Regions from separate parts of the Homo sapiens genome. Here all the other regions are linked to region 2. Evidence: fine-mapped expression QTL. A gene starts in region 2. Each other region holds a variant in brackets. All regions are shown on one strand. Distances are between the middles of the regions.

Region 1 (7,331 bases), 34 kb after region 2:
CAAACCACTGCTGTCACTTGAGGCTTAGCATTGCAATGCCTGGGCATCCCTGAGTGCCACCGTGAGCCTGTGTGTCTCGTGACACGTGTGCAGATGTTATTCCCGGCACAGATACTGAAGGGCGATGCGTGCACTCAGCAGCCAGGAGGGTTGCAGGGCCAGTGGTGAGAGGACCAGGTTCTGGCTCAGGCTCACACTCTGAGGCCCCCAAAACCCAAACCACGAACCAGGCAAGGCTTCATTCTCAGCCACAGGGGAGGCCACGCCCACCAGCACCTGCCCGACGCCGGGGTCCACCTCCAACAGGTTTCTGGCGGTGGGAAAAAGTGGAAGATGCAGGCCAGAGGAAGGATGCTGCCTGACCGACCACAGCCAGCTCTGCCTAGCAGCCCCGAGAGCAGGCAGAGGAGGGAGCAGGAAGAGACCACAGCTGATCCCAGCCTTCCTGGCCCTGACGATTTCACCTTCCCCATCCAACCTTTGAATGAGAAGCAAAGTGGGCCAGGCACCATGGCTCATGCCTGTAATCCCAGCGCTTTGGGAGGCTGAGGTGCGAAGATTGCTCGAGCCCAGGAGTTTGAGACCAGCCTGGGCAACACAGCAAGACTCCCGTCTCTACTAAAAATAAAAACATTAGCTATGTGTGGTGACACATGCCTGTGGTCCCAGCTACTTGGGAGGCTGAGATGGGAGGATCACTTGAGCCTGGCAGTTTGAGGCTACAGTGAGCCACGATTGTGCCATTGTACTCCAGCTTGAGCAACAGAGCAAGACTCTGTCTTTTAAAAAGAAAAAAGGCAAAGTACAGAGGCATTGCCTGTTATCCCTGCTGCCAACGGGTCTGGCCCTCAGAAGGGATGGGTTGCCAGATGACGCAGGTGGGCCCCTCCTGGCCTTGCACAGGGTCCCCCCTCCTTTTTTTTTTTTTTTTGAGACAGAGTCTCACTCTGTCACCCAGGCTAGAGTGCAGTGGTGTGATCTCGGCTCATTGCAACCTCTGCCTCCCGGGTTCAAGCGATTCTCCTGCCTCAGCCTCCCGAGTAGCTGGGACTACAGGCGTGCACCACCACACCCAGCTAATTTTTGTATTTTTAGTAGATACAAGCCTCAGGCTTCAGGCCTCTAGAGCCACAAGAAAACGAATTTCTGTTGTGGTTTTTTTGTTTTTTTGGAGAGTCTCACTCTGTCACCCAGGCTGGAGTGCAATGGTGCAATCTCGGCTCACCACAACTTCTGCTTCCCAGGTTCAAGCGATTCTCCTGCCTCAGCCTCCCAAGCAGCTGGGATTACAGGCATGCGCCACCACCCCCAGCTAATTTTTTGTATTTCTAGTAGAGGCGGGGTTTCACCATGTTGGTGAAATTGGTCTCGAACTCCTGACCTCAGGTGATCCACCTGCCTCAGCCTCCCAAAGTGCTGGGATTATAGGCATGAGCCACCTCGCCCGGCCCCAACGGACCCATCTTCAAGTGTGTAATTCAATGGCATCAACTCCATTCACGATGTTGTGCAACTGTCACCTCTATTAATAGTTCCAGAACATTTCATCATCCCAAACAGAAACTCTGTACTCATTAAGCAATATCCCTCCCACCCTCCGCCCCCCCGCCAGTCCCTGGTGACCCCAAATCTTCTGTCTGTCTTTGTGAATGGCCTGTTCTAGAAGTTGCACAGAAGTGGAAGCACACACCACGTCCCTTTCTGTCTGGAATTCCTCAGTTAGCATAACGTCCCTGAGGTCCATCCACGCAGTAGCGGGTGTCAGATTTCCTTCCTTTTCCAGGCTGAACCCTGTTCCACACGTGGCTAGACCACAACTTGTGTGTCTGTCCACTCATGGGTCGACGGCACTTGGGTGCTTCCACCTCCTGCTGGCCGTGACCAGGGCTGCTGTGGACTCTGGCGCTCTCGTCTGCACCAGCTGCTGCCTTCAGTTCTCTGGGGTCTGTAGCCGGAGTGGCATCGTTGAGTCACGTGGGAATCCTGTGCTCTGCTTTTTTTCTTTTCTTTTCTTTTCTTTTTTCTTTTCTTCTTTTCTTGAGACAGAGTCTTGCTCTCTCACCCAGGCTGGAGTGCAGTGGTGCGATCTTGGCTCCCTGCAACCTCCACCTCCCGGGTTCAAGCGATTCTCCTGCCTCAGCCTCCCAAGTAGCTGGGATTACAGGTGTTCACCACCACGCCTGGCTAACTTTTGTCTTTTTAGTGGAGATGGGGTTTCACCATGTTGGCCAGGCTGGTCTCAAACTTCTGACCTCAGGTGATCCGCCCACCTTGACCTCCCAAAGTGCTGGCGTTACAGGCGTGAGCCACCGCACCCGGCCTATGCTCCACTTTTTGAGAGGCCAACAAACCCCACTTGCTTTTTCAATCCAGATTTTAACCTTTGAGGGAAAAGAAAGATTTTTGTATCTATTCCTGGGCCGGGGTAGGGGGGCTGTTGGGTGAGGAACACCCAAGAACGGCTCAGGTGAGAGGGGTGGCCTCTAAGACCACATGGCCTGGACACAGCCTGGCAGGCAGACCGAAGCAGCCGGGGCTGCCTGGAGGGCCTCAGTTCTGCTCCTCCCCAGCTGCAGGATCTGAGCAGGAGGCCTCCTCACTCTGCGCCTCAGTTTCCTCATCTTTATCTGGGGACGGAGCAGCCTCTACCTCTCAGAGCTAGTTGCGATCATGGTGGCAGCTGAGGCCCAGCCCTGGTATGCAGTGAGGGTTCAACTGAGCCAGCCCCCACTCGCCACAGGCTTGCCTGGGGAAGACAGGTGCATCAGCCCCGGGGTCCATTTCGCAGTGGGGCTGATCCCAGCCCACCCTCACCCGCCCGGGAGCCTCGCCCTTCACCCCATGCATCTTCTCCCCTGAATCACCCCCAGGGTCTCCAGGGCAGGAGCAGGGCTGGCAAGGGCAGGGCTCACAGCCCCATAGGGAGGACACAGTGCCCGCAAGAGGGACTGGGCAAGAGGTGGACAGGCAGGGGGTGGGGGCATTCTGTGTGCCCCAGAGCCTGAGTTCGCAGGCTCTCAGCAGCCCGTGCTGGGCAGCAGTGTGGGCGTCTCTCCCGCAGGGCACCCTCTGCACTTTCCTGCAGACCTGCAGCAGCCCTTTCCTGAGGGACACCTGGCTCCGGGCCCAGGGTGGGGGCGGGGCCTCGCGTGTCTCCCCCTTGATTTGTAAGAGTCCAGGGCTGTCGGCCATGGCCACACTGAGCACCCCTGGGAGCCAAGGCAGCTTAAGGACAAGGTGTGTATGAGGACGGCGGGGCCCAGGGAGGAGAGGCTAGCCCAGGGCTACCCGGGTCCCCGGAGTAGGGGCAGGGGACTTGAAAATGAGCCCCCAAGGGGCTCTGATGGGGGCAATTCCAGGAGAGGCGTGGGCAGGTGTGGGGCTGGAGAGAGGCCTGTCCTTTTTCCCTTGCCCTGCACACTGTCTGCAGGGTGGCAGACCCAGGCTGCCTGGCGAGGCTGCTTCTGGAGGCCTGAGGAAGGCTGGGCTGAGGACTCCGCCTCTCCTCAAAGCCACAGCCTCCCTGCTCTGGGGCTACATGTCGGGAAAATCCCTGCCTGGGTTACCCCAGCTGGGGACTCAAGCTCTCTTTGGACCCTACAGAAAGAGCTGGCCAGCCCCCAGGCCAGAAGGGCCGTCCGTGACCCACAGATGGCCCCAACACACTGTAAAACACGCATGATTTATTTTAGTGTGTGTTAGAAAAATAAAGCCAACACATCAAGCCTGCAATTTCGCAGATACTAACACTTCGGACCAGGAAAAAAGAAGCCCATGACATGGCACAGCGCTGTGGAGCGAGCGAGATCTGGGATGCGTAGGCCTGGACGGCTGAGGCTTGGAAACCCCTCCCCTCCCCAA[A/C]CTTTCCCACCATGCAGGGGCCCAGCAGGCCCTCAGCCCACTCACCCCGCCAGAGGAGGGAGGAGGGAGGAGGGTCCGGGCCAGGTGGGAGCTTCTCCCCGGAGGCCTGAGGCAGCTTCCCTCCTCTCCCAGGAAGGGGCTGGCCCAGGCCCAGCTAGGATGCTCCCAGCCCAGCTCCTACCCGCCGGGTCTTTCCCGTTTGTCAGGCAGGCCGGCAGGCTGGGCTGGTGACTCATGACTGGCTGGGCCATCTGCCCTGCACCCCTGCCCCGGGCGAAGTGAGAAACCTGACCGGGCTCCAGCACAGACAGGAAACCCCACCCCAGGGCCTGCAGTGGGACAGGTGTGGCCGCCCTCCACCCCCACACAGGCCTCGGGGAGGGTGTCTGAGGCCGGCCTGGCCCTCTCTGCAGCACTGAAACACCAGCTGCCTCTCCCCAGCCCGGAACTGGGGATCCAGTGTCCTCCGCACTGACCCCAGGCTCTGCTCTCCCTGGGAAGCACCCGCTTTGACAGTGGGGCCAAGGACTGGGGTTCCCACCCTCCTCTGCCCAGTGGACTTTGTGGCCCCAGGCAGGTGGCATCAGCTCTCTGGGCCTAAGCTTCTCATCTCTGCAGGGTTCATCAGCTCAACAAGCATTTGTGGGTTCCTGAGACCTGAAGGCTCCACTCCCCCACCTAAGCACACAACAGTCCAGGCACCACCCACATCTCCCTCTTACCTGGAGCAGAGGGGCGGGTGTTCGGAGCCTTGGGGCCCAGGGTCATTTGCACTGGAGGGGGCCAGGAACGCTCCCAGGAGTGTGGCAGTCCCTTCCTAGGGGGCCCCTCCTGGAGCAGCTGCCTTGAGAGCCCAGCCTACAGCAGAGCCTGGTGGGGTGGCCGGGCTACTGCTACCTGGCTTCACTGCTTTCTTCTGCCATTCCTCCCAGGCTACCCAGGAGGACGAGAGGGGCAGGGTACTGGCGGCAGCAAGAGAGAACCCGCCCAGGAGGGCCCAGCACGGGAACTCCAGCCTCCAGAGCCAGCAGAGCCACGGGAACAGGAGTTCCTCCTCACAGAGGAGGCGCTGTTGGAGGGCCAGGAGCAAACTCCCAGCAGAGCAAAATGCAGAGGTGACCAGCCCAGGGCACACCAGCCACTGAAAAACCCAACAGTGGGGGCTGCCGTGGGGATCCAGGGTTGGGGGACTCTCAGACGGCCCCCCAGGCTTGTCCCCATGCGTATTCTTTGAGCTGATGGGGACGCAGTGTTCACAGTCCTGACAGGAGGCAGGCGTGACCCCAGTCGGGGAGTGGACTTGGCCCTCTTCACACCCCCAGGGCAGAAAGCCCTGTTCAGAGGTACCAGGGAGCAGGCACAGGCCAGGGTCCGAATTCGTAACAAGCATCCGGGACTCCACATGACGCAGGTCTGAGAATCGATCCCGGGTTCCAGCCCAGCCATCATTTTCAGAGAATACGGGCCCTGTCCCGAGCCGCCAGCCATTGCCAATGGCTGCCCGGAGGAAGGGAGGAAGGGGTGCCCCCAGCTTGTGGAACCAACAAGGGCTTAATGGTAGGGCACGCCCAGGGGCAGACGCCAAGAAAGGAGAGGAGGGGGCGGGGGCTCCGGCCAGGGAAGCCGTGTCCTCTGCACCAGGCAGAACAGGGGGCTGGGCCGCCCTCAGCCTGGATCTGGCCAGGGCTGGGATGCCAGCTCTGAGAACAGGGCCCAGCCCTCACCTGCTTGGTTTGCCTCTTGCCAGGGGAAGGGGCTCAGGAAGGTTTCTGAGCTGCCCCATGCCCCTGCCTGGAGTTCCTGACCCTCGGGGGAAGCTGAGGCTACAGAGAGCACGAAGTGCAAAAGGCCTGGTGGTTGGACCCAGAGCCCCTGTCCCTGGGTCCCCGCTCCTCCCCACCACCCCGTCCCAGCTCTCCCACGCTCCCACGAGGCCACATCATCTTCTGCTCCTGCTGAGTTCCCCTTCACGCATATGAAAAGCAAATTACAGGAGGGAGAAGGCAAACCCGGGGTGAACGGGGGCCTCCTGGGACTCCTTGGACCCCCGGGAGAGCCTGTGAGGGCTTCTATGGGCCGACTGGGATCTCAGGAGCAAAATAGGGGCCCCTAGCCCACAGCGGAGGGCGACTCTAATCAGCAGAGATCGCCCAGCATGCCTTATCCTCAGCAGCTCAGGGCCACCTGTGGGGCAGGGGGAGGGGGCCTGGCCAGCTGGGTCGGCCGCCCCCGGCAAAGCCAGGGGACGCCAGGAGCGGAGCTGTGTGGTGCAGAGCAACTGTGTCCCAGGGGAGGGGGGGTCTGTCTCCGCTCCTCCCAGCTGCAGGCCCTGGGCAGCCGCAACCTCTCAGAGCCTGCCTGCCCCTCTCCTGAGGTCTGGATTTTGCCAGCACAGAGCAGGGACCTCAGCAATATGCCCAGCCTGGCGCAGGCCCAGGGCAGGCCCTCTATCCGCAGGGCATCCTCTGGTCTACAAGTTCTGTGACGACGTGGCTGGCACCAGGGTCTGAGGGCTTTGATGCTGGGGAACGTCCTTGCGCCTCTGCAGTAGATGTGAAAGTCTGTGGAGCCCGGGGACCTGGAGCAGGTGGCCTGGGTGGGGCTGCTGCCTTCTGGGCCAGGACCAGATTCCACTCCCTGGCTGGACAGCCCTGGGCACAGCGTTTAAACACCCAACACTTCAACTCTGCTCTGTGAAACGGGGATGATTCTAACAGTGCTGGATCACGGCATGGTTGGGAGGCTTGGGTGAGGTCATGTGTTCCATGATCCTGTCCACACGAAGGTCATGCAGCCTTGGGGGGCACTGGAGCGGCAGGTGTGGTTTTGGGGACCTGCCACGGGCCACAGCCCTAGACCAAGCCGGACCATCGGGACTCTTTTCCTGGAATTTGAATGCTGAGCCGAGGGACACTGGGCTTGTGCTGGGGCCACTCCCGAGCCGCTGCTGTTGGGGCCTGAACAGCGCCTTCCCCCTGCCCTCCCTGCTGCAAGCTCCAACCAAATACCTGCTCCCGGCTTCAGTTAGTCAGAGTCCACTTCTGGCACCTGCAGTCAAATTTATTGATTGATTGATTTGAGAGAGTCTTGCTCTGTTGCCCAGGCTGCAGGGCAGTGGTGAGAATAAGGCTCACTGCAGCTTCGACCTCCTGGACTCAAGCGATCCTCGGCTTCCCAAGTAGCTGGGTCTACAGGCACACACCACCACGCCTGGCTAATTTTTGTGTTTTTTGCAGAGATGGGGTCTCACTATGTTGTCCAGCCTGGGCTCAAGCAATCCTCCTGCCCTGGCTTCCCAAAGTGCTAGAATTACAGGCATGAACCACCATGCCAGCCGAAAGTGTCTCTGCACATCTGCACAAATAAAATGTATTTCTGTACGTACACTGATTTGTACCCAGAAGCCCTTTTAAAAAATATTGTGTCACCTTGGCTTCCTCTCTTACTTCTTGCTCCCCCTTTATGTAAAA
Region 2 (7,331 bases):
ACAGCACATCTAAAGAAGTGTGTACACATTTTTGTATGTCAAACTTCAATGTTTATTATATATATAATCTATATAGATCTATATCTATATCTATCTAGATATAGATATAGATATATATTTTTGTTTGTTTGAGACAGAGTCTCACTCTGTTGCCCAGGCTGGAGTGCAGTGGCGCGATCTTGGCTCACTGCAAGCTCCACTCCCGGGTTCAAGCGATTCTCTTGCCTCAGACTCCCTAGTAGCTGGGACTACAGGCGCCTGACATCGCGCACAGCTAATTTCTGTATTTTTAGTAGAGATGGGGTTTTATCATCTTGGCCAGGCTGGTCTTGAACTCCTGACCTCGTGATCCACCCTCCTCAGCCTCCAAAAGTGCTGGGATTACAGGCGTGAGCCAACACGCCCAGCTATGTATATATATAAATATATCAAAACTACTAAAACAAAAAAAAAAACACTAATCCAAAGTTTTTCAATGCCAAGGCTGCCAAACACTAAACACACACATCCCCAAATCGCCTGCTGGCGTCTCCCTGCGCCCCAGTCCAAGAAGGCTGCCGTGGAGGAGACGCTGCGGCCAGATCAGAGCAACTGGGCCTCCCTCTGGGCAGCCCTCAGGACTCAGAAGGACGTCTCTAGTCCTTCACTTCCTGACAGGTCTGTGCAGATGCCCGGCTAATCAGCACATGCTCTGGCAGGGGCCTAATGTCCACCACATGGCAGGTGGTCCAAGGCTCGAGATAGCTGGATCGTCTGGGCCCTAAGATGTACTTTCACAGGTGTCTAAACCAGAGCCCCTTCCACGGTGGCACTTCACCGACAGGCATCAAAGATGACAGCATTTGGGGCCAGGCACGGTGGCTCACGCCTGTAATCCTAGCACTTTGGGAGGCCGAGGTGGGTGGATCACCTGAGATCAGGAGTTCGAGACCAGCCTGACCAACATGGGGAAACCCTGTCTCTACTAAATACAAATAAATAAATAAATAAATAAATAAATTAGCCGGCGTGGTGGCACATGCCTGTAATCCCAGCTACTTGGGAGGCTGAGGCAGGAGAATCACTCGAACCCTGGAGGCAGAGGTTGCAGTGAGCCGAGACTGCACCACTGCACTCCAGCCTGGGTGACAGAGCGAGACTCCGTCTTGAAAAAACAAAGATAACAGTCTTTGACTTGCAGGAGAAGGACCAGCTACTGCTCCACATGCCAGAATGCAGTTCTGCTGCCAGGCAAGTCACAGTGGACACTGGGACATGGAGTCAGTCCAGAAACACCCAGAGGTGGCTGGCAGAAAGCTGGGATTCTCCACGCCCAGACCAGATGCTGCCCGGGGGGCTCTGGAGGCATGTAGCCCTGTCTTCCCCTGACAGGCTCACCAACCATATCAGGCAAACAACTCAGACACAACAGCCTGGAGGGCTGCACGGGAGGGTTTGAAAATTCCTTGATCAAAAAAAAGTTGTTTTTTTTTTAGAGATGGGGTACTGTTGTGTTGCCCAGGCTGGAGTGCAGTGGTGCAATCATAGCTCACTGTAATCTCAAACTCCTGGGCTCAAGTGATCCTTCTGCCTCAGCCTCCCGAGCAGCTGAGACTACAGGTATGCACCACCATGCCCAGCTAACTTTTAATTTTTTTTGTAGAGACGGGGTCTTACTATGTTGCCCAGGCTGAAAAAATTTTTTGGATATTTTTATTCCAAAGATAATGAATATGAAAAACACAGTGTTTGCTAAGCTAATCTAAAATTAAACTACTGGTGCCACTTTGTTTCAAAATATACATGTTGTTTTCATTTTTCTACCTACTTGGTAACGTTTCAGTCAGCCTTTCTTTTCCAAAGCACTAAATGCTTGTTTATTGTAGATTAAACAGATGACACTTAGAAATGGCCATTTTCTTTCATGTGTTATTCAATGCTGGAATGACGCTAAACTTTTTGTATTTGAGATTTTTTCCAACTGTGGTAACGTCTGCACACATTAGATCAAATGTGCAGTTTTTTGTTTTTGTTTTTGAGACGGAGTCTCCCTCTGTCGCCCAGGCTGGAGTGCAATGGCGTGATCTCGGCTCACTGCAACCTTCGGCTCATTGAAACCTTCGCCTCCCAGGTTCAAGCTATTCTCCTGTCTCAGCCTCCCAAGTATCTGGGATTACAGGCATGTGCCACCACCCCCGGCTAATTTTTGTATTTTCAGTAGAGATGGGGTTTCAGCATGTTGGTCAGGCAGTTCTCGAACTCCTGACCTCAGGTGATCCACTCGCCTCGGCCTCCCAAAGTGCTGGGATTACAGGTGTGAGCCACCACCCCCTGCCAAATGTGCGGTTTTTGTGAAACGCAGATCTTAGGTGTATAACCTGGTGGATGTTTTTAATCACCTTGCAACCAAGGTCCCTATCTAGTGTCGAAGCCTGGGAGTGGTGAGTTGTGTGCTTCTGAAGACAGGTGCAGTTGGGTCAGAGTTTTTAAAAACACGATAAAATGTAAAAATACGGAGTCCCACCGTTCCCTTCCGATTCTGGAGGATCATTTTGCTTTGTTACACTTTGCTTCGGTATCGAGTTTTTGAGTGTGGGGAACTTTCCGGCCCGGGCTGACAAGGGCTGCCAGGGCCAACGCCGTGCGCTTCTCATCCACGGATTCTCTACGGGAACTGCGCCGGGACCCAGAGGGTCGCCCCGCCCGCGGCCGCCTGCACCCGCCCAGCGAAGCCCTGCCCCGGCGGGAACTTTAACCAGGACGACCCAGCCAGACGCCCCCTCTGCGGGGGAGGCGAGGGCGGTGATCTCCGGGCCCACCGGACTCACCTGTTTGAAGCAGAAGGGCATGGTGAGGACACTGACCCCTACGATGCTGTTCACGATGTTCGTGATCAGCCCCCAGTTGGAGGCGGCGGCCGCGGTCATAGTGAGAGGTCTAGGGGCCCGGGGCGAGAGGCCTCGGGGGTCGCCGGGCTGCGGCCGGCTTTGGAAGCCCAGCCCGAGGCCACGGTCACAGGTCCCAACGTCCGGGACGCCGGTGGGGAGGGGATGGGCAGCCTGAACACGGGAGCCTGAGCAGGCGCGGGCGCGGGCCCCAGAGGCTGCCTGGAGGAGGCAGCCTCGAAGGCCGGCTGCGGGGGCGAGGTCAACCTCCGGACCCCGCCAAGCCCTGCGGCCGCCTCAGGGCCATGCGTCCCTCGCTCGGCCTCGCGGGCCGCCTGTGAATCTCCGAGCCCAGACCCGGAAGAGCCGCAGAGCCAGCTAGGGACACCTCAGCCCAACTCAGCTGCCGCCGCGGCGCTCACACTTCCGCCTTCCACGGGCTCCGTTGCCCGGAAGTGACGGCCAGGGGGTAGGGTTTGGTGGGACGCGAGCCAATGAGAGGCGGGCCCGGAGGGGCGGGCGGAAACTGGGCCGGTGGGCACCTGAGGGTCTCGCAGCTGTCCGGTTCGCCAAGCTGGTCCAGCCGACCTGTGCCCGGGGCCCCAGTTCAACGAGCTGGAGGACAAGGGACTCGCCCCGCGAGGCCTCGGTTTGGATGGGCAGTCGCGGGCTGGAGAGAAGGGGAGGCGCTGTGCCTTCCGGGGAGGAGCGGGTTTAAGGGTTCCTTTTTGACCTTTATTCCCAGGACCGATTCTGGGGCGAGTGCTTGGCGCCAGGGCACGGGGGCGGGGGCCCTGACTGCCTCAGCCGAAAAATAGTCTGTTGTGAGGAATTAGCACCTAGGAGGTAGGAATGAAACGCTGGGCACAGAGAGGCTCGGCCACTCCGCTAAGGCCACACAGCTCCAAGGGGAGGCGGTGCCCTGCCGAACTGCGCCCAGATCAGTGGCAATGTTGAACTTCACCTTTTCACACGAAAAGAGCAAGGGACATTCCTGGAGGGGACAGGAGAGGTGGAGGCTTACATGAACAGGGAAACCCGGGAGGGCTTCCAGAAGGAGGTGGCTTCTAGGCTGGAGCTTGAAGGACAAATGAGAATTCCTCGGGTAGAAATGGAGACCGGGGAGAGGAGAGAACAGAGAAGGGTCCCGATAGATCTGTGGATTCCTGGCACCTAGCTGCTCACTCTGAGTCTAATGAATGAGCGCGTAGACCGAATGGCTGGGAAGCAGCAAGTGATTCCAGGCTGCTGGGGGAGGACGGCGGAGGAAAGGAGGCCGTGTCTGCAGCACCTGCAGGACCAGGTGTCTTAGAACAGAGGCCCGTTCCTCAGGCACTGGCAGTGCAGCCACCAAGTAAGGCTGTGCCCCACCTTCAGGAGAACAGGAGGAAATGCCTGGGTAAAGACTAATTAAATACGCAGGCAAAATAACAAATGCCTGCGTTCTTTTTTTTTTTTTTCTTCAGTCAGAGTCTTGCTCTGTCGCCCAGGCTGTATATGCAGTGGTGTGATCTTGGCTCACTGCAACCTCCACCTCCCAGGTTCAAGCTATTCTCATGCCTCAGCCTCCCAAGTAGCTGGAATTACAGGCTCCCGCCACCACACCCGGCTAATTTTTGTATTTTTAGTAGAGACCAGGTTTCACCATGGTGGCCAGGCTTGCCTCAAACTCCCGACCTCAGGTGATCCGCCCACCTCGGCCTCCCAAAGTGCTGGTATTACAGGCATGAGCCACCGCACCCAGCCCATTTACTTTTATATAAATGAAATGGCATACACATTCCATAACCTCCTTTTTATTATGTAATTTTCATCAAATGTTATGCATGCGAGGTAGGCTGGGCAATTTACATGTATGTTTTCACAAATAGCAAATACCATGGACCCGCTATTGAGCTTTAAGAACAAAATATTACCGAAGACTTAGATCCTCCCTTTCAGTTCCTCCCCAGTTCCAGCACCTTCTTCCCCTCTTCCCTGCTATCCTGAGACATCACAATCCAGATTCCATCAATTCATTACTTTTCTTTAAAGGTTTACCATATATGGATATATCCCTAAACAATTATGGGGAAGACTATTTGTCTCTTTTTTTTTTTTTTTTGAGACAGAGTCTCACTCTGTCACCCAGTCTGGAGTGCAGTGGCACAATCTCAGCTTGCTTCAGCCTTTCCCTCCTGGGCTAAAGTGATCCTCCCACTTCAGGCCCTCAGTAGCTGAAACTACAGGTGTGTGCCACCATGCCCAGCTAATTTTCACTTTTTTTGTAGAGATGGGATTTTGTCATGTTGTCCAGGCTGGTCTCAAACTCCTGGGTTCAATCGATCTGCTCACCTCGGCCTCCCAAAGTGCTGGGATTACAGGCGTGAGCCACTGCGCCCAGCTGACTCTCTGTCTCTTAATATTCGTTTATTCCATTTTCCAAATTAATAGGAATTGGCCTGCACGTATGACTGCCTAGGATAAAAAATACACTTCCAGCCGAGCATGGCGGCTCACACCTGTAATCCCAGCACTTTGAGAGGCCGAGGCAGGCAGATCACGAGGTCAGGAATTTGAGGCCAGCCTGGCAAACATGGTGAAACCCCATCTCTGCTAAAGATACAAAAAATTAGCCAGGCGTGGTGGCGCGCACCTGTAATCCCAGGTTCTTGGGAGGCTGAGCCAGGAGAATCGCTTGAACCCGGGAGGCAGAGGTTGCCGTGAGCCAAGAGCGTGCCATTGCACTCCAGCCTGGGCAACAGGGCAAGACTTTGTCTCAAAAAAATAAATAAAAGACTGGGCGCGGTGGCACACGCCTGTAATCCCAGCACTTTGGGAGGCCAAGGTGGGTGGATCACGAGGTCAGGAGATCGAGACCATCCTGGCCAATATGGTGAAACTCTGTCTACTAAAAATACAAAAATTAGCCGGGCGTGATGGTGTGTGCCTGTAATCCCAGCCACTCAGGAGGCTGAGGCAGGAGAATCGCTTGAACCAGGGAGTCGGAGGTTGCAGTGAGCCGAGATCGCGCCACAGCACTCCAGCCTGGCGACAGAGTGAGACTCCGTCTCAAAAAAAAAAAAAAAGAATACACTTGCCAGTGTCCCTTGCAGGTAGGGCTGGCTATGTGACCAAGTTTTGGACAATAAGAAGCAGAAATGACAGGAGAAACTTCTAGGTCATTTCTTAGGAGGGGGTCTGCCGCTCCTTCATCATGCTGTTTGGAACCTAGACACGATGGTAGGAAGCCATCTCGGACAGTGCAGACAAGGGTGATACCGTGGCAGAGTGGAGCACCAAGCTAGAAGGATCCTGGATCCCTGGACAACTCATGGAGCCAAGCCACCATGCCCATCCACGACTACCTCCTCCCAGCTGCTCTGGGAGGGAGAGACAAACCTGCTCCTTGCGCTCACCATGATTTTGGACTCTGTTTCATGAACCCAAAGCTGTAGCCTACCTAGTTCAGTAGTGTATTGGGATGGGGCACCTTTGCATTTTGGACTATTGTAAGAATTGAATTACATATATGTGCTATTCTGCAACTTTCTTTTTCACTCAACTTTGTCACACTTAAATTTCTTTTTTTGTCTTTTTTTTTTCCTTTTTGTGGAGAACGGGGTCTCACTGTATTGCCCAGGCAGGTCTCGAACTCCTGGGCTCAAGCCGTCTTCCTGCCTCTGCCTCCCTGAGAGCTGGGATTACAGGCATGAGCCACCACACCCGGCCAGTTCAACTTTGTTCACAAGAATTGCCATCATGTTGCATGTGCTCTGAGTCTCATTCTTGCTGCTCTGTGGAACTCCGTTACTTAAATAGCCCAGATCCGCATCCATTCTCCTGCCGAGGGCACCTGAGTTGTGTCCAGTCACTTGCCTCAGAGACAGTGATCCAGTGAACAGATTTGTCTCCTGAACGTGTGTTTGTTCAAGTCTCTCTAGGGTAAACACCTACAAGTGGAACTGCAGAGTATGCGTATGCATACCTAAATGACTTTACTAGATCTTGCCAAATTGCTCTTCAAAGTAGCTATAAGAGCTCTTCCTGGTTTACAGCAAAGGTTGGCAAACTTTCTATTAAGAGTCAGACAGTAAATATTTTTTGCTTTGCGGGCCTAATGGTCTCTCGCAAATATTCAGTTGTGTCATTAGTCTCTCGCAGTGCCAAATGGTCTCACAAATATTCAGTTCTGCCATGGCAGATCAGAAGCAGCCAGAGACAATATGTAAACAAGTGGGCATCTCTGTGTTCCAATAAAACTTTATTTACAAAAACAGCAGCTGGCCCAGTGCGGCCTCAGGGCTTAGCTTGTGGGCCTCTGCTCCAACATTTGGTTATTGTCAGTTTGGCCAGTCCGGTGAATGAAATGGAATCTCTTTGTGGCTCTAATTTGTTCTTATTACAAATTAGGTGAATTATTTATTCATATTTTTATTGTCCATTTTTCTTCTGTGAAATGCTTACTCATTTTTGCTTGTTTTCCTA
Region 3 (7,331 bases), 130 kb before region 2:
CCGCTCTTCGTGGGGGCCTACCCTCCTGTGCGTCTCAGGACCCCGGCCCTGACACAGCCGGGCATCCAGCTGGCCCCCTACAGACCTGCACGGACTGAGTCCCTCCCTCAGTGCTGGCTGGGCAGCAGCAGGGGGCTGCTGGGCTCAGGCTTGCCAAGGAGGAAACGGGCAGGTCCATGGCCAGGGCGGCCGGGCGTCGCGGATGCATGCCGGCCACGGGTATTTCTAGACAAGACTTGCAGGGCCGCCCGTCACAGAAGGAAAAATAAAACAGTCTGACGCGCTAGTTCAGGCTCCAGCAGCAGCCAAGCATCTCGCCAGACCCCGCGGCAGAGAGCAGGGCGGGGCCCAGCCTCCAGAGCCAGGGTCCGAGCAGGGTCCGTCCTCCCCGTCATTCATCCCTGGGGCCAGGAGCTGCTTTCAGGGACACCTGCCTCTGGGCCACAGAGATTCCAGGCAGCTTCCCAGGGAGAGAAGGTGCCTGAGCCTGGCGGTGTGCTGGTCAGTGTCTGCACCCAGCTCCCTGGGAAGGAAAGCGGGGCGTGTGCCGGCTCCTGCCGCAAGTGCTCTCACCTCGGCCCATTTCAGGGTGGAAGCTGCTGGTGCTCAGCCCTGCACAGGGTCACGGGAAGTGAAGCAGCAGGCCACCTGCTCACTGCGCACAGACCTGAGGCCTTGTGTCCAGGACCTGCCCACTGCCCCGAGCCTGGCTCCCACAGGCCAGCTGGCCAGGGCTGCCCGACACCAGGTACAAACCACCAAAAAATACCTCCAATGGGCACTCGCTTGAGGGGCTCAGAAGAGCTGGGCAGGACCTGGAAAGGCTCCTGACATCTTTCGCCACAGAAAGGCAGACAAGACCACCATGGGCAGCCCCCACATGCTCACGAGCCCGGGCGTTATAAAAACAGCAGCCAGCACTGGCGGGAGGGGAAGCCATGGAGGCGTTCGTCCATGGGGATGGGGGCAAAATGGCACCACCTCCTGGAAGCTCCCTGGACAGTGCCCCACAGTCACACACCAGCACCCCTGATCCCTGGGGCCGCTATACACACAGCGAAAACCTCAGGGCCCAAAGAGGACAAGGCCACAGGACCCTGCTTATGAGACAGACGTCCAGGCCAGGGGCCCAGAGACCGAGACAGATCGGTGGCTGCCAGGGCTGGGGGCAGGGGATGGGGAGTGATGCCCTCGGGCATGGGGCTTCTGTCAGGGGCAGGGATGCTCCACAGCTAGCCGTGCCATGGCTGCACTCTTGGGAATGCAGGAAAGCCCCAGCTGCTCATTTGACACAGGTGGGTCCTTGGTATGTGAGTTACCTCTCAGTAAAGGGGCCCTCACTCCAGCGTCCACGATAGCAGCCCACGGGACAGCCCACAACTGAGCATCATTCACAGAGAGCGAGCGAGATCCCCAACATGGGGCAGCTGGGAGGGCGCCGGCGGCCTGCGAGTGACCGGCCAGGTAGCAGTCCTGGGGGCAGTGGCGGGGACTCTCGGGGGCTGGGCGTGCTGCCGCGCGGGTAAATCCAATGCGGGGAAGCCCCGGACCCGCACCCCGGAGGTCAGAGCGCACTTGTGTGTGCCGTGGTCACTAGGAAGCCACACGCCTTTTTCGCAGGGGGTTCGAGGAAATTCCACGTGGGCCTCACAGCGGAGCCCAAACCCTAAGCAAGCCCCACCGGCTGCAGAATCCGCAGGACCAAGTACCAAGGGAACCCAAGGCCCCTTGTTCAGAGTCACTAAGAATTCCCAGAAGCAGAGCAGAAGGGAAGCCAGAGGGGCCCCACCGAGCACCAGGGCCTCGTCGGAGGATCCTCACACCGAGGACGGCATCCCCAGCTCCATCCCACAACGGCCTCAAGCCACAGCCTCAAACCGTGGCCTTGGCACAGAGGTGACTCGGCAGAGCCCTGGTCCCGGACCAGCTCCCCTGCCCCCCAGCCTGGCTCCCCCAGGCCAGCTGGCCAGGGCTACCCGATACCAGGGACAGGGAGGGGTCTTCCTGGGGACCCTGGCAGGTGGGTAGAGCCAGATTCCTGTCCCTCAGCAGCAGGGACCCCACACCCTCCCCGAGGGTGAGATGGGGATAGGCTGGCCACGCCCCGCCGTGAGAGGTGGCCTTGAGCAGCCCTGGCTCGGGGTAGCATCCTGCCCCTCACTCCCCCTGGGGCAGGTGGCCCCGGCTGCCCAGAATCGCCCACTGCAGAGGCCCTGCCTGCTCTGGCACGGCCACCTCCGCTGGCAGGGTCCCTGCAGGAGCAGGAGTCTCCTGGCCACGGCCCCCACCCCCAGGCTGGCAGTGGGAGCACAGCCCGCATCCTCCCAGAAACCCCCACGTACCAGGCTCTGGGTGTCGCTCCCGCGTGGCTCTGACCGTGGCTGTAACCCCAGAGTGACCCCCGGGAGGACCCCAGCCCGCCCCAGCCCCACCCAAGGCCGCAGCCCCCTGACCCCAGGCCCCGGTCCCTGCGGAGGGAGGCTGGAGACCCGGCGAGGACGCCGCCTCCCGTGACAGTTCTCAGAGGTGCCTGGGAACTGGCTCCGGCCCCGTCCGCTGCCCTCATTTCCTCTGCCGGCTTCCTCTGCGGGGGGGCGGGGAGGCCAAGGCCGCCGGTCCCGCGGGCGCTTGTTCCTCTGTGAAAGGCAGGGCAAGGCCCAGGGGGGCCCAGACGCCAAAGCCCTCCTGTCACTGTGGCCTGCGGAGGGGACGGGAGTCTCCCCACCACGGACACGGGCTCCTGGGCCCCTGGATCTGTGCCACCAGGGACAGGACCGCAGGCCGAGGCCCCACGGCAGGTGCTTTGCATCAGGCTCCCACCCAGGAGTGGTCGAGTGGGCCTCCCGTCAGCCTTGCCCTGGCGTGCACAGAGGGGTCAGGTGGCCCTCGAGAAAAGCCTACCCCGGAAGAACCCCGTGAGCTGGAGACAGGAGGCCGGTGACAGCAGAACAGCGTGGTCCCAGGCTCACCGCCGACACCACATCCGAGGAGACACCGAGGTGCTCCGTGGACCCTCTGCCTCCCCCGTGGACCGAGGAGGAGGCAGAGGATGCCACGCAGCTGTGGCCCCGGCCTGCTTCCTCCTCACACCCAGCCAAGCGCCCTGGAGGGTTCTGAGGCTGGGGGCTAGCACGTGGCCTCATTTTCTTCCAAGGATAACTCTTCTCAGGATGGAGTCAGAGGCTCCTGATGTCTCGAGGCAGCTGTGCTCACCCCTCAGACCCAAGGAGACCCCCAGATGTGTGTCCTGGGACCACGGGCTGCTGGCCCAGACGGCAAGGAATGGATGTGCTCACAGTTCTGGACAGTGGAGGAGGAAAGCACGGCATGGGCAGGGCCACTCCCTCGAGGCGCTGGCGGGATCCTTCCTGCCTCTCCGGCACAGCGGCCCCAGGTGCTCCTGGGCCTGCATCACTCCAGCCTCTGCACGTGGCCTCCTTCCCGCGTGCACGCCACTCCTCCTCTTTCTATCAGGCCCCAGTCATTGGATTCAGGGCCCACCCTACTCCGGTCCGACCTCATCTTAACTTGATTACAGCTGCAAAGACCCTAGTTCTAAATAAGGCCCCATTCTGAGGTACTGGGCGGGCATGGGTTTGGGGTGACATATTCCACTCAGCACATGCCTCCAGGGGGCACAGGCAGGAGCACAGTTCCCAGGCGGCCGGGGTGGTGGGTGAGTGCAGAGAGGACGTGAACAGTCACCAGCCCTGGAGCTGCCGTGACGGCCCCCGGGTTCTCTCAGGAACCTCCTGGAGCGTGGGTGCTGCCGGACCCCATTTCAGAGGTGAAACAGACACAGAGAAGTTATGAGACCTGTCCATGGTCACACAGCAGGGCCCGGCCCAGGACACCAGCCCACGCCAGAACTCTCCCGTGAGGCAGGGTCAGGGTTGGGAGCCGGGGAGGCAGAGGGCATGGCGGGGAGTCGATGCATCCCAAACATGCAGGGTGGCACAAGGCAGACCTTCCAGCATGTTCCACACAACACAACAGCTGCCAGCCCACCCCAGCCAGCTCTGGGGCACTCGGGCCCACAGGGTGGCCACTGCAGGGGCCGGTCCTCTGGGTCACTGCACCACCCCATGGAGGGAAGCGCACAGCCTGGCCTCCTGGAGAATGTGCCGGAATGAGAGAAATGTTCTCCCTGACCCATGCCTGGGAGTGTGGGGCCTCACACCCACCCCCTCCCCGAGTGCCGACACCCACACCCTCCCCGAGTGCCCGCACCCATGCTGGTAGGTGGGAGCCGGACCCGTGCCCAGGGCCCACGGCCTGCGTGTGACCGCTCCCCAAGGCCACTGTCCACACAGCCTTCCCATGGGACCCTCTCCAAGAACCCACCTCGGCCTGCACACCTGCAGCCTAAGGGTCTC[G/A]GTGGGAGACCTGAGACCTGAGAGGAAGTAGGGGGATGGGCCGAACTCATGGGCACAGCTTCCTCTGGGGCATCCTCTGAGACCCCGGGGGCGAGAGGAGGACAGGTAACTCCTCCCAGGGCAGGTGCTTGCTGCCTGAGCCTGAGTGGTCTGGGAGACTGAAGCAGCAGCTGCCTTCAAACAGACTCCACACCTGGTGCCCGGGCAGTGTCAGCTGTGGGGCACCTTCCAAGGGGAGGACTCCCGGGGACCACCCAGGCCCATGGCCTCCTGCTCAGCCCCTTGAGCCCCTGAGTCCAGCCCTGCCCCTGCCACTGAGGCCATGCCTGGCCCGGGGCTCGCTGCCTCCTCTGCCCTCTCCCCATCAATAGGCTCATCCTGAGGCCCAGCCTGCCCAGCCCTGTGCCAGGTGTCCGGTTCACATGAATGCTGATAGAGCGAGCACCGTGGCCAGGCACAGGCACTTCTCCCAGGAACCCCCCATGGCGCCTGGTTCAGGTCAGACACAGGGAGAGACCTTGGGCAGGAGACAGGGCGTGAGCTGAGGGACAGGGGAGAGGCGGGGGTTGGGGGGTGGCAAATCCAGGCTGCCACGTGTTCCGAGAACTTCCACAAACTCCAAGCCCTGCCCACTGGTCAACAGTGACACCTCTGCGTCAGGGATCAGCCATGGTAGGCACTGCCCAGGTACCCACCCTTGGCTCAGTGCACCACTGCTGTCCCTTCAGACCTGGCCATCACAGCCATTCCCACCTTACAGATGACAAAACAGGCATGGAGAGCCAGTCACAGAAGGGCCCCTCAGCAAACCAGAGGTGGCCCCAGGGCAAACCCCTGCTCCTAACTGTGCAGAGCATTTGACCCCCACCCTCAGGCTGAGCGCGCCTCTCCAGAAGCCGGAGCGAGGCGGTGTCCCCATGCCCACTTCCAGCCTAGGACAGCTCCAGGCCCCAGGGCTCAGGACGACTAGAAATCATGACGCCCTGAGGCCGCACCAGGGAAGGTGAAGGCTGGGGAGGGTGAGCAACAAGGCCAGCCCCCTCCCTTGGGGCACTCAGGTAGAAGGGGTGACCTCTGCTCGCTCAAGGCCATGCCACCCCCTTCCTGCCAGCCTGGACCCGGCCATCCTGCCCATGTGTCACCCCCATCACCCTGCTTTTCCTGGCCGCCATGCCCACACTAGTCTCCCCAGAGCAAGATTTCACATGTGCAGAACGGATCTCAGAGAGGCTGGGTGAGTAGTCCGAGGCCACACAGCACAGAGGCTGGAAGGCTGCAGCTGCCAAGAAATCCCCCAGCCACGCTCCCGAGTGTCAGGGAGATGGGGGAAGAGCTGGGCTCCAGAGGAGGCGGCTCTTCCTGGCACTCAAGCAGGCTCCTGGGCCGGGTGCCCCCTGCCCTGCCCGCATCTGCCTGGTGCGGAAGGTCAGGGGCCCAGGCAGCCCACAGTCTGTGCCCACAGCCTCCACTCTCAGGCCCTGCACTATCGGGCGTCTCTGCCCCCTGTACCACCACAACTGCCGTCACCTCTATGGAGACTGGCACCAGTTCCTGCGATGAACAAGGAGCCGGCCCGGCAGCGGGGCAGGGCCTGGCAACTGAGGTGAGACCCCCATGTCAGGTGCTAGCACTGCCCCAGATGCTGAGTGACACACAAGCCAACTGCCAGAGCCACAAGCGTGGGCCCCTCCCCTCTGGGTGCCCCCCCACAGACACAAGCAGCCTCAGAAGGAACCAGCTCGCTCCAATTCGGGGATGGCAAGGAGCCAGCCACATGCTGTAGGAAGCTTGGGCCCTGGGGGTCTCTGTCCCAGCACCACCACTCCAGCACAGACAGCCAAGTGCTCACCAAGCACTGAGCCCACCCGGGCCTGCCACAGGTACTGTCGGCCCATGTCATAGATGGGAAAACCGAGGTTCACAGAGGCAAGGCCAGGCAGAGGGACTGCAGCACAGGACAGCCAGGCTTGGAAGGCTGGGCTAAGTTTAGCGGGAGGGCAGGAGACCCCTCTCTCCTCCCTAACCCTCTCATGGGGGCTGGTGCAGAGCCTAGACCCAGCCCCTTAATCCGAAGGAGGGTCTCCTTCCTCACCAGCACCAGCACCTTGGGCAGCCCCTCCTGGTAGGTGGGCCCCAGAGCCCAGCAGGTGCCTGCAGCTCTGGCCCAGCATCTTGCAGAGGAGAGACGCCCCTTGCCTCCAACAACTTCTTTTCCTCTAAGTCATTAAACGGACACATTAGAATTATTCAGATCACAGCTGTTTACCCAGAGAAGGGCAGAGCCGGTGCTGCTCGAAGGCGGGGGAAAGGGCCTCTCATGGCCAAGGACAAGGCTGGGCCCCGAGGCAGGGTATGGGCCGAGGGTCCTCTCTGTTCTGGGGGCAGAAAGGACCAAGCACCGTGGGCCACGCCTGGCATGGAGATGTGATGAGGACCTGCCCCAAGCCTCCTCCACCCCCTGCCCTTGGGCCGGGGAGACATTACAGCTGTTGCCGTGGCTGTTGGGCTCTGAGCCTTCACCTGCCCACCCCACAGGGACTTCCGAGCCCCAGGGGTCACTACAGGAAGTCATTTCTGAGCAAGTGACACCCACAGCCCTAAGCCCAGCAGACAGACCTCCCACCAGCTCCCTTCCTCCAGGGAGCAAATGCCTTCAGACCGAGATCTGCCCCGGGGACCCCCGTGCCTCCCTGCCAGGCTGCGTGCACTGGGCCCTGCTCCAGGGAAGGAGACACAGGAGATCACGTCACATGCAAACAGGCTTTGTTTGGGCTGGCTCAGCCTGGTGCCAGAGCCCCAGTGACGTGTGGGTGGGACTTGGCCCTGGGGCCATGGATGGCACAGGGCAGGGGGATTATCTCCCACTCAGGCCAAGCAGGGGCCGGATCTGGAGAAGCAGAGGTTTTAGAAAGCCCACTGCTTCCTGGTGACAGATGGGGCTTCCAGCTGTCCCCA
Region 4 (6,704 bases), 48 kb before region 2:
CAGCCTCCAGAAGCTTCCCTCTAGTTAATTTCCAGTCTTCAGGCCAGGTGCAGTGGCTCAAGTCTGCAATCCTAGCACTTTGGTAGGCTGAGGCGGGTGGATCACAAGGTCAGGAGTTCGAGACCAGCCTGACCAACATGGTGAAACCCAGTCTCTACTAAAAATACGGAAAAAAAAATTAGCCGGGCGTGGTGGCGGGCGCCTGTAGTCCCAGCTACTCGGGAGGCTGAGGCAGGAGAATGGCGTGAACCCGGGAGGCGGAGCTTGCAGTGAGCCGAGATCACACCACTGCACTCCAGCCTGGGTGACAGAGCGAGACTCCGTCTCAAAAGAAAAAAAATTTCCAGTCTTCAGGCTGCCCAGTGACATCCTTCAAGGGAAGAAACTATAATAAAGAGCCAAAAGGATATCAAAAGGTGCAGGAAGACACCACCAGAGGCTGAGGCCGGCCCTCCATGCAGGGACCCTTCGCCAACACGGGCCTCCCCCAGACCCAGGCCCTGGTCCTCTGCCCTTCGTGGCAGGGTTTCGTGGCAGGGTTGGGGCGCAAGCTCCCCAGAGGACGAGCCAAAGCAGACTCGGATGCTGTGGACACAGCAGCACCTCCTCTCTCCCGCCAGGTGAGAGGGCTGTGGAGCGTGTCCTGGTCACGAGGCAGCACGCCCGTCAGCCTGGCCCTGGGGGCTGGACCACCTCCTGGCACCAGGCGGCTCTGCCTGCTCACAGGGTCTCTCTGGGGCTGTGCTGCGTCTAGTGTCCAGTCACTGCGACGCTCAGGTCATGGCGCCGTTCCCTCATGACCTCTGGCCTCTGCTTTACACATCTGGAATCCTGAGCCGGCCTCAGGCTTTCCTTTCAGTCACTCCCCCAGGACCAACTTCACTAATCAGGTTATCAGTGGTGTTTTTTACTTTTTAAAAAAAGCCACAATTGGATTTTGAAAAACACAGACAATGGAGGGCTGGGCCAACCATGAGGAGTGCAAAGGGCGGCACCGGCCAGTGCCCCTGGACACCCGGCTTGTCTGGCCCCTGCTCCCTGTGCTTCCTGGACACCAAACAGCATCCACCGAGGCTGGGTGAAGGCAAAAGTGTTTATTCAAGACTTTCTACCACACTGTGGGAAGCATCGATAAACAGTCATAATAATTATCATTCTGAGTCACTGCAAGCGTGGGGTTGGATGCTGGCTCTCACAGTAGCCTGTGTTGGGACCATGAGCAGCCATGCGCACCTCCACGCACGGCCGAGCTCAACCCGAAGACCACGCGTGCTCCCTGGCAGGAGCAGGAGGCCTGACCACAGACGCAGCAGCTCCCCAGCCTGAGCCTGGGAGTGCACCAGCCAGCTCGCAGCGGAGGCCGTTTCTCCTCACAGGCTGGAGTGAGCTCAGAGTCTAGAGGTCAGAGGACCTCAGACTAAGAGCTGCAACAGAACGACAGCAAGAACATTCTGGAAACGATGCCACAGTGAATCTTTTATACTGTCACTCACACTTGGTGAGGGCCTCAGACATGAAACCCTGGGGAGAGGCGAGTGTGACCTCCAGAGTTTGGCTGGGATGCGGCTGAGACAGACCTGCTGCTGGCCGAGGAGGGCAGTGGCTGGCGTGGCCCTCATGGCCAGCAGGTGCTAGGACTCCTCTGGAGGCCCAGGCGCCTGTCTAAGCTGCCGGCTGTGGACCACCTGCAGAGCTCCCCCCGCAGCCTGGCGGAGCTGGGCATCCAGGGCGCCACGGAGGTCGTTCACCTGGACATCAGGCAGGGGGTTAAGGCCAATGATGACCCCATCCCTCGGGGCCAGCTGACCCTCTGCATGAGGGCCAAGGTCCCGCCGTCGCCTCCGGAGGTCGGAGCCAGCCTGCAGTTTCAGGTCCCGGTTGGGCTTGGCATTGTCCGGCCTCTGGCCCCCCGGGACAGCTCGTTTGAGCCCCAGCTCTGGCTCTGGCCTCTGCCTGGGCTCCTGGACAGCAGCGTCCTCCCCGCCTCTCGGCTGCTCGTGGGACACAGGCACATGGTCCCCCCCGCGGGCCTTTCTCATCTCCAGGTGACCGCCATGGTCCAGCCGGTGGCCCTGCTGTCCACCCTGCTCGCCATCAGAGATGACCCGCAGTTCCGGCTGGCGTAACACAGCCTGGGGCTGTGCAGCTGCTCCTTCCGCCCCACCGGGCAGGTCCGCTGCAAGGCCCAGGTCTCGGCTCACTTGCTTGGGCTTCATGCGAGGGTCCCCCGTCTCTGCTCCTGGCCCTGCCACGAGCCAGTTGGCTTCCTTCAGAATGCTGGTGCCAGTGGCTGCCACCTCCTTCCCAGGTTTTTTCCTGTCTTGGGAACCGCCAGTAACGTCCTGACTTTGCCCAGGGAATTCCTCTGCGAGGCGCTCCTCTGGGCCCCCGGCTTCCCTGGCGGGGTCTGGCACGGGCACCTGCTCCGGGCCCTTGGGGAGCTCCTTCACAGTGCCAGCTGCCCTGGGGGCGGCATCCTTCTGGCCATCTCTCAGCTTGGCCTGGGCTGCCCGAGGCTCTGTGTCAGGGCCGCCGTCAGGAGGGCCAGCAGGGTCTCTGCCCACAGGCCCCTCAGAGTGCTCCAGGGAGCGCTGGTTAAGGTCCTGGGATGGAGCAGGGCGGCCCCCAGGAGCTCTGAGGACAGGGTCCAAAGGCAGGGGAGGCAGATTCTCCACCGTCTCCCTGGCCTTGCCTTCAGGGGCCTCCTGGCCTCTGGGCACCGCTGCCCCGGGCTCTTGATGCACCTCCACTGCAAATGAAGTCGGTCATCAATTTAGCCACAGCACTGTACACAGGCTGCCAGTGGAGGGGCTCAGAAGAACCAGCAACAACAGCA[T/C]TGGGAACCAAAACCAGACTCACGCTCAGGTCTAGAGGCCACCGAGCCTCAGACCCAGCCGCATGAGGACAGCAGGAGACCCCCTGCCTGGCCCCACCCCACTCCATCCGCCAGCCCGGCCTACCCTGCCTGGGTTTATCCTCCTCGTCCTCCTGCCTCTGCTGGTGGATCTCCTTGTGCTGCTCCTCGATCACCGCCAGCAGCTTCTCCTGCTGGTCCAGCAAGCGCTTTTGCTGCACCTGCTGTTCTTTGATCACCTGAAGCAGGACGGCGTGGTCCAGCATCTCCGCCCTGCCAGCTTCTGGGTTTGGAAAGCACACAGTCAGAGTGCCCGGGCTGCTCATGCACCGTGCTGGGCCAGGGACGGCGCGGCCCACAGCAAGGCAACGCACAGGTCACCTGCAGGGAGTGTGCCCGAACACTGGCCACTGGTGACACCCATCATGACTGTGACCGTGAAGCCCGGACAGCTCAGTGATGCACGCAGGCCTGAGGGCCCGGGAGAGGCTGCGCCCTGACTGCCCCTGGAAGCCCACCCGGGATGGCCTCTCCCGCACAGCCAGCCACTGTGCCGCATCAGTTCTCCCACTGGCTGTGCCCCAGGCGCACCCGGCAGGACCCCAGCAAGCCTGCTCGTTGCCCATGGAAGTGAGTGTCCAGAGCAACAGTCAAAAGGAATGTGCCAGAATGTCAGAGATGGTTATCTGGGCTGGGTGGGGTTTTGTTTTTGTTTTTTCCACTTTACACATTCAGTTGTTCTAGGACAAGCACGTAAGAAAATAAGCCTGGGCACGGCGGCTCACGCCTGTAATCCCAGCAATTTGGGAGGCGGAGGCAGGCAGATCGCTTGAGCCCAGGAGTTAGAGACCAGCCTGGGAAACATAGCAAGACCCCCATCTCCACAAAAACAAAAAAAACAAAAAAATAAAAATGATCAGGGTATGGTGAGAGGCGTCTGTACTCCCAGCTACTCGGGGGGCAGAGGCCAGAGGATCATTTGAGCCCAGGAGGTCGAGGCTGCAGTGAGCCGTGATCACACCACTGCACTCCAGCCTGGGCAACAGAGCAAGACCCTGTCTCAAAAAAGAAAAAAAGAAAAGAAAAACTGTAAGCTATGTTTTGAAAAGAATATTGGTACTTCTAGAAAGTTTCCTCCGAGATGAGAATTTTAAAAACAAACAAAAGCTGTCTTTTTTTTTTTTTTTTTTTTTTTTGAGACGGGAGTCTCACTCTGTCACCCAGGCTGGAGTGCAGTGGCGCGATCTCAGCTCACTGCAAGCTCCGCCTCCCGGGTTCACGCCATTCTTCTGCCTCAGCCTCCCGAGTAGCTGGGACTACAGACGCCCGCCACCGCGCCCGGCTAATGTTTTGTATTTTTAGTAGAGATGGGGTTTCACCGTGTTAGCCAGGATGGTCTTGATCTCCTGACCTCGTGATTCGCACACCTCAGCCTCGCAAAGTGCTGGGATTACAGGCATGAGCCACCGCACCCGGCCAAAAGCTGTCTTCTAAGGGGAGCATGGGAGCTGGAGCGTCAGTGAGGCCCCCGCCAGCCATCCTAACCACCGCTCCTGAACACCATCCACTGTGGAAATTCTGGGCAGGTCCTGCGTGATGGGGAGCCCCAGTGCACCCCGTGTTAAGAGCTGGTGCCTGCAGCAAGGGCCAGAGGACAGGCCTGCCCGGGTTACGGCTGGCACACACTTGGTGCAGGAGCACCCGGTCTGACTCGCTTCAACACTGGCCAGTTATTTGCCGCAAGCGGCTGTGACTTATGTCATTTTTACAAGATGTTTTCAAATTATTATAGGAAGCTTTGAAAAATGATGGGTTAGGGCTGTGAGGCATAAAAGTTCAATCCAGGAGCGAGAAGGATGTTTTGTGAGTGGTGAGAGCAAATATCTCAGGGACGGCCCTGCATGCCAGGCATAGACTGACGTGCCGGCCCAGCCTCCCCAGTGGTGACACCATGACCAGCCAGAGAAGTGCAGGGTCAGCATTCTCCCAGGAACGCAGCCCTGGGCCTCGCCCAGACCCCTGGATGTGGGGGACAGGGCTGGCTCCAAGGAGATCAGGGCCATGGGGCCGGCCCTCAAGCAGCAGCCCCTGCTCCCTGCTAGCACCCCGGGCCAGACGCCTGCCTGCAGGGAAAGGCCATGACGGGCAGAGCAGGTCTCCCGCACACCTCCTTTCACAGGAGGAAGTGCAGGTGGCAGACCAGCCACCTCGGCCGTGGGCCACGTGCTCGCCCTGGGTGCTGCGGGGCTCAACCACGGAATGTCAATGGTACAAGGACGAGATCCCATGTGCTGGTGACACCTCCCCATACTCCAGGGCAGGGTTCCGAAAGAGCAGGCACCATGGCCTCACTTGCTCCTCAAAGGACTAGCCCTGGGCCTGGTGCTGGGAAGAGGAGGAAAGAGGAGACAGAAGGGAGGAGGGGGAGGGGGAGGAGGGAGGGAGAAAGAGGAGGAGGGAGAAGGAAGGTGGGGGAAGAGGAGGAGGGAGGAGGAGGAAGGAGGGAAGAGGAGGAAGGAGGGAAGAGGAGGAAGGAGGGAAGAGGAGGAAGGAGGGAAGAGGAGGAAGGAGGGAAGAGGAGGAGGAGGGAGGGAAGAGGAGCAGGAGGGAGGGAAGAGGAGGATGAAGGAGGGAGGGAAGAGGAGGGAGAAGGAGGGAGGGAGAAGGAGGGAGGGAAGAGGAGGGAGGAGGGAAGAGGAGGGAGGAGAGAAGAGGAGGGAGAAGGAGGGAGGAGGGAAGAGGAGGGAGGAAGGAAGAGGAAGAGGAGGAAAAAAGAGGGGGAGGGGGGAAGGAGCCATGCCACGTCCAGCCAGAAGCCACGTGGGACACATGTGAAGCACCGTGGAGGAGACAGGCTGTTCCTACAGCCAGAGCCCACCAAGACCACGGGGACTGGGCTGCAGAAGGCACGAAGCCACCCACCTGTTGAGACCCATGCAGATCTGTCAAGGTGGCCCATGAGGCAGCAGTGCAGGCAGCGTCCCCCCTTGGCTGGTGCCCTAAGCAGCCTGCACTCAGACGCTTGCAGAGACCAGCTGCCCTCTGATGACAGGCAAGGCCACAGCAGGGCTGAGAAGGACCACGGCATTTGTAACACAAGGGAGCAGAGTGGGCATCGGGACCCTGCCTGAGGGGCTGTGGCTGAGCCTGGGTGCGTGCGCAGGTCTGGGGCCTGACACGTGTCCCCATGCAGGGCTGTCCCTGGGGCAGGTGTGCCACCGAGGGGCTGCGCTCAGGTCTGTGGCCCGCCAGACAGGCTCTTGACTTCAGCACACTCCTTTGGGTTCGTACCTGCTACTATCTTTTTAATTTCAGCTGCTCGTCCCGTTGAGAGGCATACGGAAGAAAGGCAGAATAGGAAACCGTGAAAAGTCTTTTTCAGAAAGAAGAAAATCAAAAGAATCAAACAGGTTCAGGTAACAGAGCATAGGAATTGGAACCAACAAACATGGCCAGACTAAAACCGGAGACAAAACCCCACATGCCCGAACTCCTGAAGTGGCTCAGAGCTCCGGGAGCCCAGGGGGCGCCTTTTGGCTCTGCCTTCCGCGCTGCAGGTGCAAGGAGGGCGAGCTGCACCTGGAGAAGCCAGGCCGCAGCGACTGGGACGTGGCTGCTGCACCTGCCCTCCCTCGGACCGGCTGTCCTGAGGCCACAGGGCAAGATGCGCGGGCAGGAAGCGTGTGTCTTACGAACATCCTGGGAGGTGCCCGTGCCAGGGCTGGCCCGGAGCTCCCACACCTGCTCCCAGGGGCTTGGCACAGGAGGCTGGAGCGGCTGTGCCCTGCGACCCCCACACAGATCCCTGGAACAGACCCTCTCAATGCTGAGGCACACGTGGACCCCGCAT

What was found.
Region 1: its variant is fine-mapped to the expression of SLC38A10 in whole blood (TOPMed, PIP above 0.99).
Region 3: its variant is fine-mapped to the expression of SLC38A10 in blood mononuclear cells (TOPMed, PIP 0.90).
Region 4: its variant is fine-mapped to the expression of SLC38A10 in whole blood (TOPMed, PIP 0.95).

Annotation. Positions count from the first base shown.
Region 1 is chr17:81,325,561-81,332,891 of GRCh38, forward strand. It overlaps TMEM105 (TMEM105 long non-coding RNA), which reads right to left and starts at 5,114. Exons shown (of 3, transcript NR_165247.1): 1 at 4,584-5,114. RefSeq lists enhancers at 2,883-3,454, 3,455-4,026, 4,027-4,596, 5,740-6,310, 6,311-6,881. The variant A/C (reference allele first, on the strand shown) is at 3,862.
Region 2 is chr17:81,292,016-81,299,346 of GRCh38, forward strand. It overlaps SLC38A10 (solute carrier family 38 member 10), which reads right to left and starts at 3,292. Exons shown (of 16, transcript NM_001037984.3): 1 at 2,808-3,292. The coding sequence starts at 2,906. It overlaps LOC124904082 (a long non-coding RNA gene), which reads left to right and starts at 5,891. Exons shown (of 2, transcript XR_007065941.1): 1 at 5,891-6,906. RefSeq lists silencers at 2,768-2,837, 2,938-3,207 and an enhancer at 3,868-3,957.
Region 3 is chr17:81,157,894-81,165,224 of GRCh38, forward strand. The region is part of intron 1 of AATK (apoptosis associated tyrosine kinase); the gene reads right to left. Among named protein-coding and RNA genes, the nearest start is that of PVALEF, 3.9 kb to the right of the region's middle. RefSeq lists enhancers at 6,382-7,125, 7,126-7,331. The variant G/A (reference allele first, on the strand shown) is at 4,377.
Region 4 is chr17:81,243,925-81,250,628 of GRCh38, forward strand. SLC38A10 (solute carrier family 38 member 10) reads right to left here. Exons shown (of 16, transcript NM_001037984.3): 15 at 2,961-3,137; 16 at 887-2,749. The coding sequence ends at 1,632. Among named protein-coding and RNA genes, the nearest start is that of NDUFAF8, 8.0 kb to the left of the region's middle. RefSeq lists enhancers at 759-878, 979-1,028, 1,239-1,328. The variant T/C (reference allele first, on the strand shown) is at 2,837.